Linked DNA regions of Homo sapiens. The protein of the gene in region 3 purifies or fractionates together with the protein of the main gene of each other region. This does not show direct contact. Each region holds a gene or a part of one and is shown on either strand. Other genes may lie near its edges.

Region 1 (3,570 bases), on a different chromosome or scaffold from region 3:
GGTGCCAGGATTACAGGTGTGAGCCACCATGCCCAGCCCTGCAGAATCTTTAATTCCTCTTTTCACCAGAGCCATCCCTGGCCTCTGCAGCCTTTGACTTTCTTTTCTTTCTTTCTTTTTTTTTTTTTTTTTTTTGAGACAGAGTTTTGCTCTTGTTGCCCAGGCTGCAGTGCAATGGCGCAATCTTGGTTCACCGCAACCTCCACCTCCTGAGTTCAAGTGATTCTCCTGCCTCAGCCTCCCAAGTAGCTGGGATTACAGGCATGCACTACCATGCCCGGCTAATTTTGTTTTTAGTAGAGACGAGATTTCACCACGTTGGTCAGGCTGGTCTTGAACTCCTGACCTGAGGTGATCCACCCACCTCGGCCTCCCAAAATGCTGGGATTAGAGGCGTGAGCCACTGTGCCCAGCAACTTTATTTTCTTCCTGCATTTTCCCCTGTTTTCATGAGGCGTTGCCTTATCTAACGTGCCATGCCTGTTTGTGTTTGGGTTCACTTTTCTTTTCATAATCCAAAGAATCATAGATCATACCAAAGCCAGTCATCTGGCTACTACCAAAATGAGTTCTGCCTCTGAATACAAAGATGACCTCTGGTGTAGTCTGGTACCTTTTGGCTAGTTTTTCTCCAAATTTCTATCTAGGTACCACTGCCTTCCCAGGGTAGCGGCAGTCTCAGGCCATCTGTTTCCACTGAAGTGGTCAGCTGGTCCTGAGGCCTCCTACCCCAATGGACAGTGACTGTGTCATTCAGGATGGAGGTCAATTGTCAGGCAGCCAAGGAAGAAAAATACAACTGATTTTTTAAAAAGAGGTCCAGATCAGGGGAATTCAATTAACAGCCTGTAGCCTAGTTATGCCAAATTCATTTTCACATGGTTCATGCATCCTGAAAAGGGTAACTAGTTTGCTGGATTTGCATATTTCAATTATAAGTTGAATTAAATGCAGCAGCTGCGAGCATCTTTTTCTTTTTTTGCTTCCAAAACAATGAGTCAGAATTAATCCACAGTTATATTTTCCCCAAGCACAGCAGAAAAGTTATGTGTGTATTGTCAGGAGACAAAAATAAATTGTTACCCTAACCCTTTTGTCCCCCAGTTATCAGCTTTAAGCCTCATGGAATGAGCAGCACAGAGGGTGACTATTGAGAGAACACAGTGAGATAGTTTGCTTTTAAAAATCCTTGACATCACCAAGCCTTCCTTTTCTTCTCCCTGCATTTCTAGTCCACCAAACATCTACTACCCTGAGCAAGAAGATGCCTAGGAAATCAACAGGTGGTGATTCCTGGGCTTATGAGATGAACAGTGGGACTGGAAGAGCAATTTTCAAAAATGAAACCTATCTTGTTGGGGCTCAGGACACACCACCCCAAAATATGACTGGAGGAGACTAGAATATGCCACCCCAAAATATACTTCTCTGGCATATTTTGAGCTGGTTATTCTGAGAAACTGCAGACATAGGACTAGCTCTGAAAAGCTGTCACTTTGTAAAAGAAATCTACATCTACAAAGGAAATCTACATTAATAAGTGTGGTGGCTTGCACCTGTGGTCCCAGCTATTTGGGAAGCTGTGGTGGGAGGATCACTTGAGCCTGTGAGGTGGAGGTTGCAGTGAGCTATGATCACGCCACTGTACTCCAGTTTGAGCAACAGAGCAAGACCCTGTCTCAAAAAAAAAAAAAAAAAAAAAGAAAAGAAAAAAGGACAATTCAAGCTGCTGAGAATTCTTCTTTCTGCTGATTCACCCTTACGCTTCCATACTCCACATTACCCAGCTCCTTAAGCCCAGTTCCCCTGTGCTGCAGTGTCCAACAGCAGACACATTTCTCGTGTCAGAACAGTTATTTCCTAGAGGTTTGTGGGGTTTTAAAAATTACCTTCAGAGAATGTTTACCTCTAGCAGGAAAATGCTTCAGTCCAAACCAACGCCCCCTCCATGCTTGTGTGCATTGCTGCGCATCATGTGAACTCAGGACAGAGAATGGGCAGGAGAAGGTGAATCTCAGCCTAATGCCTGGCTGACATGGGAGCATAAGGCTACCTGGTCTGTTCATGAAGTCACAGTGGCCTAGGCCCGCAATGTCTATCCTCTTCATAAAAAGCACCATGCTTGTTAGGTTGGCTTCCTGCATTTCTGCTGGCTTCAGTGGCGTCATGTCTTTGGAGGCAAATTCTTCAGTGTACAGGCAGAAAAATTTTCCTAAAAGACACCAAGAAAAATGGCTTTAATATTTCTGGGTTGCCTGCATACAAGAATTGACAACATTTAGTATTTGTGTCCACAGCACTACCTGAAGAAGATGAGCCAAGAATCTGCTTGCGTATCTCTGCCTGGCTCTGGCTGATGGGCTGCATGACGAGCGAGTTTGCTCTTATTCTCGGGTTGTACACCTTTAAATGGAAAGACAGCATCATTAGCGTCAGATAAGTCATGATTCAGTAGGCTCACTGATCCTGAAGAGAATATGCTGCGCAGTACTTTACTCCATGAAATGCACTGCCACAGACTCATTTTCTTTGCACGATATTTATTATTGTTTCACTTGCCTTGAGATGGAAACTGCAAGTGCTTTGATAAATGGATTTAAAGGTTGTCTGCTTTCATTGTGGCTTCAATAACTATGAGACCTTTGTGTCATCTGCTGAAATACTAGCACTGTCACTTCTCAAAGCACTGTACTGGTGAATGATAACATATGCTCATATGTCACACAGAGAAAGGGTTCTCACCTGATAGTGCCATGTTTCTTTATAGTTTTGTTCAAATCAACCAGGATCTTGGTGGTCTCACCTTTACAACACATACTGAGAGTTCCAATCATAACAGCTAATACAGAAACTGCGTATGGCACTAACAATGATTTTCCTTACAGGTGGTTCACGGGGGCAAGTGACAGCCCTGGTTTCTCTGAAGGCTGGACTAATTCAATCAAGATCAACTCTAAGTGATTTCCAGGGAACCTTCATGACTGTTGGAATTGCTCTGTCATAATAAGTCAGGGATATTTAGGAGGCTCATAGTCTCCTGGAGGGATAAAACATCTCGGCACCTAGTAATGGTAAATTAGTCAATATTTGTTAGTTTCGTTTGAGATCTCAAATGTTAGGATTTTCTGAAGTCTCAGTGTCTTTCAGAGTTTGAGATACCTTGTTTTCATTTTTTCTAATTTTTAATTTAAAAGTAATAAAGAATATTTTGTAATGATTAGGATGAAAATTTTATCGTCAATTATAAGCCAAAATTTGCTAAAATTAAAGTCAGTATACTTGAAACAAGTTTCTAGTAAGTTCTCTGGGGTAAGATACTAATTACTCTGATAAAGGGGCTATCAAAAAAATCCAGTAAATTGTTCATAAGAAGAGATCAGTTTAAGAGTCAAACAATTTGCTTTGCTAGTACCTTAGCTAAAGAAAAAATACTATTAAAGATGACTATCACCTTTATGCTCTAGTAGTTGAGTCTTCCCTCAAAACTTTCTCCTTTGGCAGCTCAATCAATTTAATTCATTTCCAAACCTCCAACATGCTAATGGAATCAAGACTTTTGTTACTGGCTGC
Region 2 (3,570 bases), on a different chromosome or scaffold from region 3:
AGGAAATATACCATCAGTTGGGCTGAAAGTCCATCTGAAGCCTGTAGTGCCTTTGGATGCTGGTTTTCTGGGCCTGCTTGCACAATTTCCATAGTTTGGTGCTCTGGTGTTAAGTTTCCTCATCTGAAAAACGATGAGTTTGGCTGGAGAACCTCCACATTTCCAGCCAACTATGTCATTGAATCACTGTAGAAGAAGAAGGTGGCAGTATTTGTTTTTTTTAAAGGAGCAGGGGTTGTGTGTGGAGTGGACTGAGAATGTAGTGTAATAAAGAGTAATATAAGAAAATAAGAGGCAAACATAATCTTCAGCATATTTATGAGTGGGTAATGCACAGCCCCTGACCTGTTAGAAGAGACAGCAGATATAAATTGCCAGTGTGTTATCTACCAAACAATAGCCCTGCAGATAAGGTTTTATTTATTTAAAGTCAACATTCAGGATAGGGGTTTAGGTCAGGCACAAATTCTGTCCAAACAATGTAATAAAAATTACTTTACAATAATGACCCTGAGATACTACAAAATCCCAGGTAGCATGCATTCCTCTTTGGGCAGGAAAGCACAACAGTATTTTAGGTAGGTTTCTTTATTTTTTATTTTTTTGAGACAGGGTTTTATTCTGTTGTTGCCCACGCTGGAGTGCAGTGACACAATCTGGGCTCACTGTAGCCTCAATTTCCTGGGTTCAATCAATCCTTCTACCTCAGCTTCCCAAGTAGCTGGGACTATAGGCATATGCTACCACGCCCAGCTAAGTTTTTGATTTTTTTATAGAGATGGGGTTTTGCCATGTTGCTCAGGCTGGTCTCGAACTCCTTAGCTCAAGTGATCTGCCCACCTCGGCCTCCCAAAGTGTTGGGATTATAGGCATGAGCCACTGTGCCCATCCGTGGTAGATTTTTAATAATGAGAGTTGAAGCAAGAAAAGTACAGAGTTTGGGAGGAAAAAAAAAAAGCAATTAAGGGAAACGCTTTACCCTAGCCTGAGAGTCTGCCTGACTCCAAAGCATTAGCGAAAGATTTTCTAAGCTGAATAATGGGTATGCTTTTGGTAAGGATTAAGGAAATGAGCCATCCATTAAATTCTCACTTTTTTCTTTGGCCTCATTTCTATTCAGACCATGTTTAGTGTGTCAGGCCAGGGCTGCCACAGATACTCAAGTCAGCATGAGGTTGTGGGAAGGGTGACTAGGAGCTTGGTATTCAGGCTTGGATTCTTCCCTTCTTGGCAATTGAATGATCTTGGCATGGTGTCTGAATCTGTTCTCAGGACATCTATTTGTAATTGAGGAATAAAATATGCCTTTCCTAGAATTTTTATGAGGATTGGGTGAGATAATATGTTAGAATCTTAGCACTGTGCCTAGCACACAGTGCTCAATTACAGATAGCTGTCATGATCAGTGGTAGAACAGTCAGGTCTCCTGTGCCCTTATGAGCAAAGACAATGTGCACTTTTCCAGGACTTGGTTTCCTTTCCCCTTCTCCCACCTAAAGCTTCACTCTTCTTGTTAGGTGTGACTTTTGTTACATTAATTTTCCATTAGGTTCAGCCAGTTTCCCGGAAGAAGCTTCAATTAGTTGGGATTACTGCTCTGCTCTTGGCTTCCAAGTATGAGGAGATGTTTTCTCCAAATATTGAAGACTTTGTTTACATCACAGACAATGCTTATACCAGTTCCCAAATCCGAGAAATGGAAACTCTAATTTTGAAAGAATTGAAATTTGAGTTGGGTCGACCCTTGCCACTACACTTCTTAAGGCGAGCATCAAAAGCCGGGGAGGTAAGTGCCTCCAGCTCTGTAAGAGACTATTTTTGCTTGGTGTCTCATCCCAGAAACCTTGACCTAATTTAAGGAAAGCTTATTTATAGGACGCTTCCTTTAGGTAAGTCTTAATGCTTTCCTCATCAGTTCTTAAGAGAAAAGGCCTCATGATCTATGTTTACAACATAGTGTGGAATAGAGTAATTCTTGAGAAGGATAAGTGAGTCAAGTGAATTGGAGTTCCTAGGCCTTCACGCAGAATTTTGCAAGACAGTAATTACACTTGTGATTCTTACTATCCCTTGCTGTTCTTTCTTAGGTTGATGTTGAACAGCACACTTTAGCCAAGTATTTGATGGAGCTGACTCTCATCGACTATGATATGGTGCATTATCATCCTTCTAAGGTAGCAGCAGCTGCTTCCTGCTTGTCTCAGAAGGTTCTAGGACAAGGAAAATGGGTGAGTGGTGGATTTAAGAAGAAACTAATTAGGCTATATTTTAGTCCTTCGTAATACAAAAGGCCTTAGCATTTTTACAACACTATCCTTGAAGCAGTTGGTTTTGTTTTGTGTTTTTGAGACAGGGTCTCATTCTGTCACGTAGGCTGGAGTGTGGTGGTGCCATCACAGCCCACTGCAGCCTTGACTTCCCAGGCTCAAGTAATCCTCCTACCTCAGCCTCCCGAGTAGCAGGGACTACAGGCATGCATGACCATGCCTCGCTAATTTTTGTAAATTTTTTTGTAGAGACAGGGTTTTGCCATGTTGTCTAGGCTAGCCTTGAACTCGGCTCAAGCAGTCTGCCCACCTTGGCCTCCCAAAGTGCTAGGATTTCAGGTGTGAGCCACAGTGCCTGGCCTGAAGCAATTGTTTAAAGTCCAAAGTCCTAAAGGAAAACTACTTGGAGAGGGGCATGGGGGCTTGTGCTTGTAGTTCTAGCTACTTGGGAGGCTGAGGGAGGAGGATCATTTGAGCCCAGGCCCAGGAGTTCAAGTCTATCCTGGGGAACACAGAGAGACCCTTGTCTCTTGGGAAAGAAAGCAAGCAAGCTGCTTGGAACAGTTCACATAGAAGTGAGTTGACTATACATACTAAGGTGCATGTGTGCAGTATAGAGTTGTACAGAATGAGGAAGGCCACTAAGAACTGACATGTATGATTTCTTAGATATTACGTTAAGTGAAACAAGCAAGTTGTCAAGCACACAAGACAAAGGAAGGCCAAGGCCTGACTGATTTAGCCAGTAAGAATAGAATGAGCCACTTGTAGATTTAGAAGAGTAGCCAAGGATGGCAGCTCCTCGGGTCTTTGTTTCACATGGCAAAAAGGATAATGTGGAAACAAATGGAGCTGGATGGCTGCAATGCAAGTCACAGGTACACTGTTGTGGAGAAGCCAGTTCTAGACCACCGCTAAACAGTCTTCTAGTCTGCAGTTATACCCTGAGAGCAGTACAATAGAAAACCTCATCAGAACCTAGGGGATACGAAGCTGTCTTGGCCGGGTGCCATGCCAGTAATCCCAGCACTTTGGGAAGCCAAGGTGGACAGATCACCTGAGGTCAGGAGTTTGAGACCAGCCTGGCCAACATGGCAAAACCCCCGTCTCTACTAAAAATACAAAAATTAGCCAGGCATGGTGGCAGCTGCCTGTAATCCAGGCTACTCTGGAGGCCTAGGCATAAGAATCACTTGAACCCGGAAGACAAAAGTTGCTTTGAGCCAAGATCGTGCTACTGCACTCCAGCCTGGCGGACAGGGCGAGACTCTGTCTCCAAAAAAAATATAAAAAAGAAGAAGTT
Region 3 (4,347 bases):
AAAAAAGTGTTTTTAAAGGCTGGGCACAGTGGCTCACGCCTGTAATCCCAGCACTTTGGGAGGCTGAGGCGGGTGGATCACCTGAGGTCAGGAGTTCAAGACCAGCCTAACCAATATGGTGAAACCTTGTCTCTACTAAAACTACAAAAATTAGCCAGGCATGGTGGCGGGTGCCTGTAGTCCCAGCTACTTGGGAGGCTGAAACAGGAGAATTGCTTGAAGCCAGGAGGCGGAGGTTGCAGTGAACTGAGATCGTGCCACTGCACTCCAGCCTGGGCGACAGAGTTAGACTCCACCTCAAAAAAAAAAGTTTTTAAAAAGTAATTTCAGAAACTAAATATGAATGTCCTATACACTTCTCCACCATTAAACAGTAATTGCAAAAGACAGACAATCTCTGGGGCTCCAAAAGACTGTCACTCTATCAGGCCATGTTGGCCTGGAGGGAAGCTCTGCAGATAGGAAGCAAATGGATTCAGGGGACCACAGCGTCGTGATCTCCTTCTGAGGGGTTTGACAACCTCTAGCTCTCCTCTGGAGCATGGACTGTGAGAGGGAAGGGCAATGAATTAAAGCCAGTCAGGAGCAGCAATAAGGAGGAGAAACAACTGAAAGCCGTGGAGGTGTTTCCCTTGGAGGAAATGTGAAGGCACGAAGCTGTCCTCTTGAACAGAGGAAGAGAGATTCCTTGCTCTGTATCGTTCCCACCACAATGCTCTAGCCCTGCAGTTAGCACACCATTTTGAAACCACCTGCTTATAAATTCACTCCCCTCCCCAAAACCTCAGCTCCTTGGGCGTGTGAGTCACTTCTGAGTGGCCAACAACGATCCCACAGCCAGGACACAGCAAATACTGAACTGAGAGCGGAAATTACAGGAAGGCCTATTGTGGCTCAAGAAAGGGAAGTGCTTTCTAACAATCCCAGCTGCCTCCAACAGGCTAGAATGTTTGGGCAGAAGCATCGCCCCAGGGAAGGGTCTGCTAGCAATGGAATGCACTCATGCCAACAGAGGGAGGCAGGACAAAACAGTCTCTGAGATTTCTTCCAATTCTAAGACCCAGCCTCCTGGAGCAGCAAAGGGAGCCATGGGATCCGCCACTGCACTCCGGCCTGGGCGACAGGGGAGACTCCATCTCTTAAAAAAAAAAAAAGAAAGGGGGGCTGAGGGGGAACCACAGGGGAGCAATGCAATGGCAGCACCTGCACTGTGCCAGGGACACACATCCAAACGCTACCTCGTAACCCTCGCAATCCCACGAGGAGGTAGGCACTAGTACTCTTCCCATTTCACAGTGGAGGAATCTCAGGCTCAGGGAGGTTCAATAGCTTGCCAAAGACATATAACTTGTAAGACATGGAGCTGAAATGTGAACCAGGACCACGAGGCTGCCCTCCTGGCCGTGCAGAAGGCAGCTCCAACCCTTTGCAGCCGAAGACTCTCCAAAGGAAATAATATTAACTGACTTCATGGCTTGCTGACGCCAAAACGTGTCCAAAGTATTTTTACATCTATAAACCCAAAAGCGCTAAGCCAGCAGATCCAGTTCTAGGGAAAAACAGCTGGTCTGGGGCCATCTGTTCTGCGGGAGTCTAAGGGCTGCCCTCTCCTAGACTCCAACCAAAGAACATGAGATGCTACGGGAGGGATCTGGGAAGGCTCTCCTTAAGGAGGTAAGTTTTATGGAGAGCAGAGTATAAGATCAAACCTTTGCATTAGAAAGATCACTGTGGTAGCAGTTTAAGAGGCTGGGCTGCAGGCAGTGAGACAGGAGGCGTGAAGGCGATGCTGGACTAATGCAAGTGAGGGACACGCTGGCCTCAGGCTGATCATACTTCAAGGCCCTTCTGCCAGAATTCCCAGAGAGACCAAACTTTCCACTCTCTGGACCCCGATCTACTCACACTGTCATGGATGCGGGCCTGCTGTCAATCCTAATTTTGTGGAGAATCCTACATGTCTTTCTTTAATGTAAGGAGAGAAACAATGCTGATCGTAAATGCCAATTACTGAACTCACTCCATGCCAGGCCCTTTACACAATCTCCAGATGGCCCCAACAGCCCTATGAGGAAGGTTACTATCCTTATCCCGGTTTTGCAGAGGAGGAAACTGAAGTTCAGAGAAGGTAGCTTACCAAAGGTAATCCAGCTCCTAAAGGAAGGAGTCAGGATTTCAGTCGAGTTCTACCCGACGGCAGAGACTGCACTGTTAACCACTGCCGAGAAGAGTGGAGAGGGACGGCTAAGGGTTCTGAGTCCCGGGCTTCTGCGAGGATCGGTGACCCCGCGAGCCTCCCCCTCCACGCCTTCGGGAAAATAATAAGTGATAGGCTAGATGTGGGAAGCCCAATCCCAAACAAAGGAATCAGGAGGGATCCAGCTTTCGGCAGCCTTCAGCTATGAGAAGTGATTAAAGGGCATGGACCTGAGCACCCCGGACAGGAAAGACAGAAAAAGAGGTCCCAAGCGAGCAGCTGACTCGGGCAGAGGCGGGGCTCGCCAGGGAGGAACACTCTGGGGCGGGACTTACGAGGGGCGGGGCTCTCTGAGCCTCTCTAAGTCTAGGACCTGCCAGACCCTATGAGGGGGCGGCCCGAGGGAGGGCGGGGCCGCATGAGGGGCGGGGCTACAGCTGCGCTCGCAACCCACAGGTTCATGAGGTCACCTCCCCGCGCCTGGACCCAACCCTCATTCCATACTCTGGCTCCAGCAGGGCTGATCCGGGATCTCGATGGTGTAGTCCAGCTCTGCCGAGGCCATGGTGAAGGCGCCGGCCCAGAGCACGGGTCTCCAGCCGGAACTCCCGCTTGCGCACCCGTGCCTCACCCGGGCGCCTCCTGGGCGCCGCCCAATCACCACACACCTCCCCCAACACGGCCCAATCCCTGCGCCGCGCTCTGTGACCTCCCGCCTTAGCAACCACCGAGTCTCTTCCAGAGCCTCTCGCCTCACCCCACTAGCTCGGCCCTAGCAACCATGCCCCGCCCCTATTACTGACCCGCAGCCATTGGCTAATTCGCTTGATCTGGATCAGGTATTGGTCAGCCGGGGCGCCGGTCAGGAAGAGTCCCCACCCTCTCATGTAGGTGAGAGGCGGCTGAAGAGTTGCTGTATTCTGGGAATGGGCAGGGTCACTCGTCCGAACAGAGTCCTATCCTACGCGGCGGAAGAGTGTGCCCTTTGACTTGCATCGTCTACCTACCTCTGCCATCCTCTACCAGCCGCAACTGCGAGGGCTGGAGGTATAAAACCGTACAAAACGGCCTAGGGGGCGCGTGCCGACCCAACCTCCACCCAGTGGGGTTGAGGCATATTCTGGATGGATGGATGGATGGATGGATGGATGGGTGGATGGGAAGCAGTCTTCAGTTGATGACTTTAGAGAATGCCCTGTTGATAGGGCCCACCGAGGAGCTGGGAGTGCAACTTTCTTGCATTTATCTATATTTACATACTATGTGCCAGCATATTTACATACTATGTGCCAGAGACTGGGTGGGCTAAATAAGGTTCCTTAGGCCCTAGTGAGAATCAAGCTTTTGGCCCTCCCTCTCCCATGTCTTAACGGGAGAGGGAGAGAAACCATGCATGAAGCAACTCTGATTCTGCGTGTGAGATAAATACTACAGAAGAGTAAGGATTTGAGGAGCTCAGAATCAGAGAAGGGGCATTTATGGCAGTGGGGTTGGCTCTTGAGCTGGGCCTTGAAAGACTTTTAGAGATAGGGAGGGGGAAAGACTCTTTGCATGCCAGGCGCGGTGGCTCAAACTCGTAATCCCAGCACTTTGGAAGGCCAAGACGGGAGAATGGCTTGAAGGAGTTCAAGACCAGCCTGGGCAACATAGTGAGACCTTCATCTCTACAAAATTAAAATTTTAAAAATTAGCCAGGCATGGTAGCGCATGCCTGAAGTCCCAGCTACTTGGAAAGCTGAGGTGGGAGGATCACTTGAGTCAGGAGGTCAAAGCTGCAGTAAGCCATGATTGTGCCACTGCACTCCAGCCTGGGTGACAGAGTGAGACCCTGTCTCAAAAAACAAAACAAAGAGCCCAGTGTGGTGTCTCACCCCTGTAATCCCAGCACTTTGGGAGGCTGAGGCGGGCGTATCACTTCAGGTCAGGAGTTCGAGACCAGCCTGGCCAACATGGCGAAACCCCATCTCTACTAAAAATACAAAAATTAGCCGGGCATGGTGGTGCACACCTGTAATCCCAGCTACTTGGGAGGCTGAGGCAGGAGAATGGCTTGAACCTGGGAGGTAGAGGTGGCAGTGAGCCGAGATTGCTCCACTGCACTCCAGCCTGGGTGACAGAGCGCGACTCTGTCTCAAAAAAAAAGAAACATT
Region 4 (3,570 bases), on a different chromosome or scaffold from region 3:
TAGAAACAACCATAGCACTACTTATTTTTTAAAATCGTTTCAAACATTCAGAAGCCAAATGACTGTCCTTAAAGACAAATTAAATGGGTAAAAGGTCTTATCTAACAGAAGAATACAAAATTTTAAGCTTTGGTTAATAGATAATAAGTGTAGTGGAAATTTTTAAATTAACATCTCCCTTATATGTTATATTCCTGAGTTGTTGCTCAAATATCATAAAGAACTTAGTTTATAGCTTTATATAACATTGCATTTTATTTTTGAAAAACAAAAAGTATTGTTATTATTTGAAATGTGAATAATGGTGTTTAATAATATCATCATGGCCAGGCGCGGTAGCTCACACCTGTAATCCCAGCTCTTTGGGAGGCTGAGGTGGACGGATCACCTGAGGTCAGGAGTTCGAGACCAGCCTGACCAACGTGGAAAAACCCCATCTCAACTAAAAATACAAAAATTAGCCAGGTGTAGTGGCGCATGCCTGTATTCCCAGCTACTCAGGAGGCTGAGGCAGGAGAATCGCTTGAACCCAGGAGGCGGATGTTGTGGTGAGCCGAGATCGCGCCATTGCACTCCAGCTTGGGCAACAAGAGTGAAACTCCACCTCAAAAATAATAATAATAATAATAATAATATAATCATAACAGGATGGAGTCCCTTTAATTTAGCTTAACTAAGGGAAAAACTAATGCCGTCTGACCACTATTTGCAAAGATCATTTGTAAATTGTGATCAAAATTATATTAAATCTGTCACCAACTTTTATTTGCACCTTATGAAATCATGTTGATTTTGTAGTATTGAATGCCCTTATAAAAGAATTGAAATGATGCAGTGCTAATGGTTAGCACAAGGCCACGCACAGGGTGAGCGCTCAATATTACTAATTAATTTAAAGTGAAAATCTTTTAATGTATTATTTCTGCACCTTAACATGCAATTCAATGTAGTAGTTATTAACCCAAAAATATCCAAAAACATTTTAAACATGAAAATACATTTTAGTAACAATCATAGGAATGTTTACAAGTGGTTATTTTCAGTCTTAGTTTTATCAAAATAGAATTAAATTTCAGATTCCTTTTAAAAATAGGCCTATGAAAGCTGATTTCATAATAGCTGCTATATGTGATGTGGATGGCAGATTCAGTGCCTTCTCACAAGTTCAACCTATTGACACCTCCTGAACCAATTACTTTAGATTACAACATACCCCTTAAAACAGAGTTTCCCCTGAAGACTGAATCCGTGCATCTGAGGATTGGGTCCAAGAATGTGGATTTTTAAACAAGTAGCTCTCCTCTGCTTCCTGGTAAATTATTATGATCAGGTAGATTTGGGAAACAGTGCTTTAAAGCAACCAAAATAATTTTATCATACTTGAACATTACTTGATATGAATGGCATATCTAATGAAAAATCAAATGTATCAAGCTTTTTAATAATCTGCATAGCTTATCATCATGCCTATTTCTTACCTAAAAGTCACAAGGTTTTGTTCCAATTCTCTTGATAGCCCACAAGAGCTAATAAAAGTTATCACCTTTTTAAAAACTGCTGGTGATTGGGCTTCTACAGTTTTAGCATTGCATATACCTTTTCTTATCAGGAAGCAGAAGAGTCATATAGCAGTTGTATTAAAAAACTAAACAATGTGTAATTTATTCAAATAATCATACTACTTACGAAGTAGTCTTTAAATAGCTATACCAACATCTGTTAGTAGAGTTACTTGCCAAGCTGGTTATCAAATGCCTATTTCTTTAAAAAATTCAATTTACAAAGTATTATGTCAACTCCATGTACAAAATCTCATTTGCCATATAATGCAACTAGGAAGCAATTATATAACTGGATATGTGTACATAAAAATGTGCATAGGTTCATTCTAATTGATCGACTAGTAACAAATCCCTCTAAATTGAAAAAGGTAAAATAAGCAATGATATGGAGTCTCAAAAAAAGTATCATGGAGCACTGAGGAAAGTTTAAATTATTAGAGATTTGAAAGAACATTTAAATAGGATTAAAATAATAAACTTTTAGCTACTTCTGTTTTCTAATAAGAATATCATATGCAGAGAAACAAAACTGCAAGCTTATTAAAATGGGTTAAATAGCTTTTAAGCTGATTAAAACTACTTAATTTAAAATGAATTATTTTTGAACCTCAAGTAAATGATGTAATACTCAACAATTTATTAAAAAATAAACTTTAAAAGTTTTAGCATTAGTAAAAACCATTGCTAATACACAAAAGTGTATTATCAAATTCTATATTCACAAGTTGGGAAAGGCTTAATACCAAGTCCTGGTTCCACATTGCACTTCATATTCCCATCTGTATATCAGCAAAGTTGTAGAAGCTGTCTACATCTCCAGATGCCGTCTCCTTGCTTTCAGATACAAACATCTATTTTAAATAGAAAATTAAAAAAAAAAATCAGTACCAAGTACTTCAGAATGCCAAAGCCCATGTTCTCCACAGAACAAAGTTCCAAGCTAATTATTCAAAAGAAGTTCAAGTACATCATTTATAATGACAATATTTAATCTGTAGATTTTCTTTAGAATTCATGTAATACACTTTGAATAGCTATAATGTAAATTAAGCTCTTTTGGAAGCACTTATATAATTAAGGTCTCTGCTTTCATAATACTTGAGTTGTATTTTATTACATCTGGACTTTTACAACACTCAATATTACGGAAGCTACTGAATAAGAGTCACTTAAAAAACTCTTTGTTTCTTCTATTTTCTAATAATAATCTCAGTAGTCTGAGCAGCAAAACTTGAGATTATCCCTTTCAAAGCTGCTAAAGATATATTATTATTTTTTATTTTATTTTATTTATTTTTGAGACAGAGTCTTGCTCTGTTGCCCAGGCTGGAGTGCAGTGGTGCAATCATGGCTCACTGCAGCCTAGACTTCTGGACTCAAGTGATTCTCCTGCCTCAGCCCCCCAAGTAGCTGGTACTAATGGTGTGTACCACCATGCCTAGCTAGTTTTTTTTTTTTTTTTTTTTTTTTTTTTACTTTTTGTAGAGTCTCACTATGTTGCCCAGACTGGTCTTGAACTCCTGGGCTCAAGCAGTCTTCCCGCTTCAGCCTCCCAAAGTGCTGGGATTACAGGTGTGAGCCACCACACCCAGCCTGTTATTTTTAAATAAACTATCTGCTAAACATCAATGAAGCAATACTCAATAGAACCCTTCTAAAGTAGCTTTTACAAATGTCAGCAAGGAATTAGAGCAGATGTGGGTTCTATTCTAGCTTTATCGTAAACTAGCATATGATGCTGACAATTTAATAAACCTCTGTGGGCTCAGTAACTACACCTGTAAAATGAGAAAGCTGGATTAGATAATCTCTAAATCATTCAGCTCTAAAAGTCCAAATTCTAACCATTTTATCTCTCAGTTTCCTTTTCTATTCAACCTGGTATTTTCCCTCTCCCTTAGTACTACTGTGATGATAAAATGAGATCAAAGACAAAGTACTTTAATTTTTGTAAATTCAAGGAATCATAAGCCAAATCAGATGATAAAACCAAAATGTCCTCCCAGGT

Evidence for each region.
Region 1: the proteins of TMEM53 (region 3) and DHX32 purify together in Homo sapiens (affinity purification with mass spectrometry; one large-scale study listed by BioGRID and IntAct). This does not show direct contact.
Region 2: the proteins of TMEM53 (region 3) and CCNB2 purify together in Homo sapiens (affinity purification with mass spectrometry; one large-scale study listed by BioGRID and IntAct). This does not show direct contact.
Region 4: the proteins of TMEM53 (region 3) and RP2 purify together in Homo sapiens (affinity purification with mass spectrometry; one large-scale study listed by BioGRID and IntAct). This does not show direct contact.

The regions. Positions count from the first base shown.
Region 1 is NC_000010.11:125,850,240-125,853,809, forward strand, and holds part of DHX32 (putative pre-mRNA-splicing factor ATP-dependent RNA helicase DHX32), read right to left. Parts: intron 3,457-3,570; exon of another isoform or gene 3,005-3,456; coding exon of another isoform or gene 2,886-3,004; intron 2,404-2,885; coding exon 2,304-2,403; intron 2,213-2,303; coding exon 2,054-2,212; coding exon of another isoform or gene 1,907-2,053; intron 1-1,906. Other genes in the region: BCCIP (BRCA2 and CDKN1A-interacting protein), read left to right, coding at 2,886-3,004.
Region 2 is NC_000015.10:59,115,141-59,118,710, forward strand, and holds part of CCNB2 (G2/mitotic-specific cyclin-B2), read left to right. Parts: intron 1-1,549; coding exon 1,550-1,786; intron 1,787-2,087; coding exon 2,088-2,228; intron 2,229-3,570. UniProt on the Homo sapiens protein: Essential for the control of the cell cycle at the G2/M (mitosis) transition.
Region 3 is NC_000001.11:44,671,630-44,675,976, forward strand, and holds the start of TMEM53 (transmembrane protein 53), read right to left. Parts: upstream 2,853-4,347; 5' UTR 2,763-2,852; coding exon 2,702-2,762; intron 1-2,701. UniProt on the Homo sapiens protein: Ensures normal bone formation, through the negative regulation of bone morphogenetic protein (BMP) signaling in osteoblast lineage cells by blocking cytoplasm-nucleus translocation of phosphorylated SMAD1/5/9 proteins.
Region 4 is NC_000023.11:46,878,529-46,882,098, reverse strand, and holds part of RP2 (protein XRP2), read right to left. Parts: intron 2,414-3,570; coding exon 2,330-2,413; 3' UTR 1-2,329. UniProt on the Homo sapiens protein: Acts as a GTPase-activating protein (GAP) involved in trafficking between the Golgi and the ciliary membrane.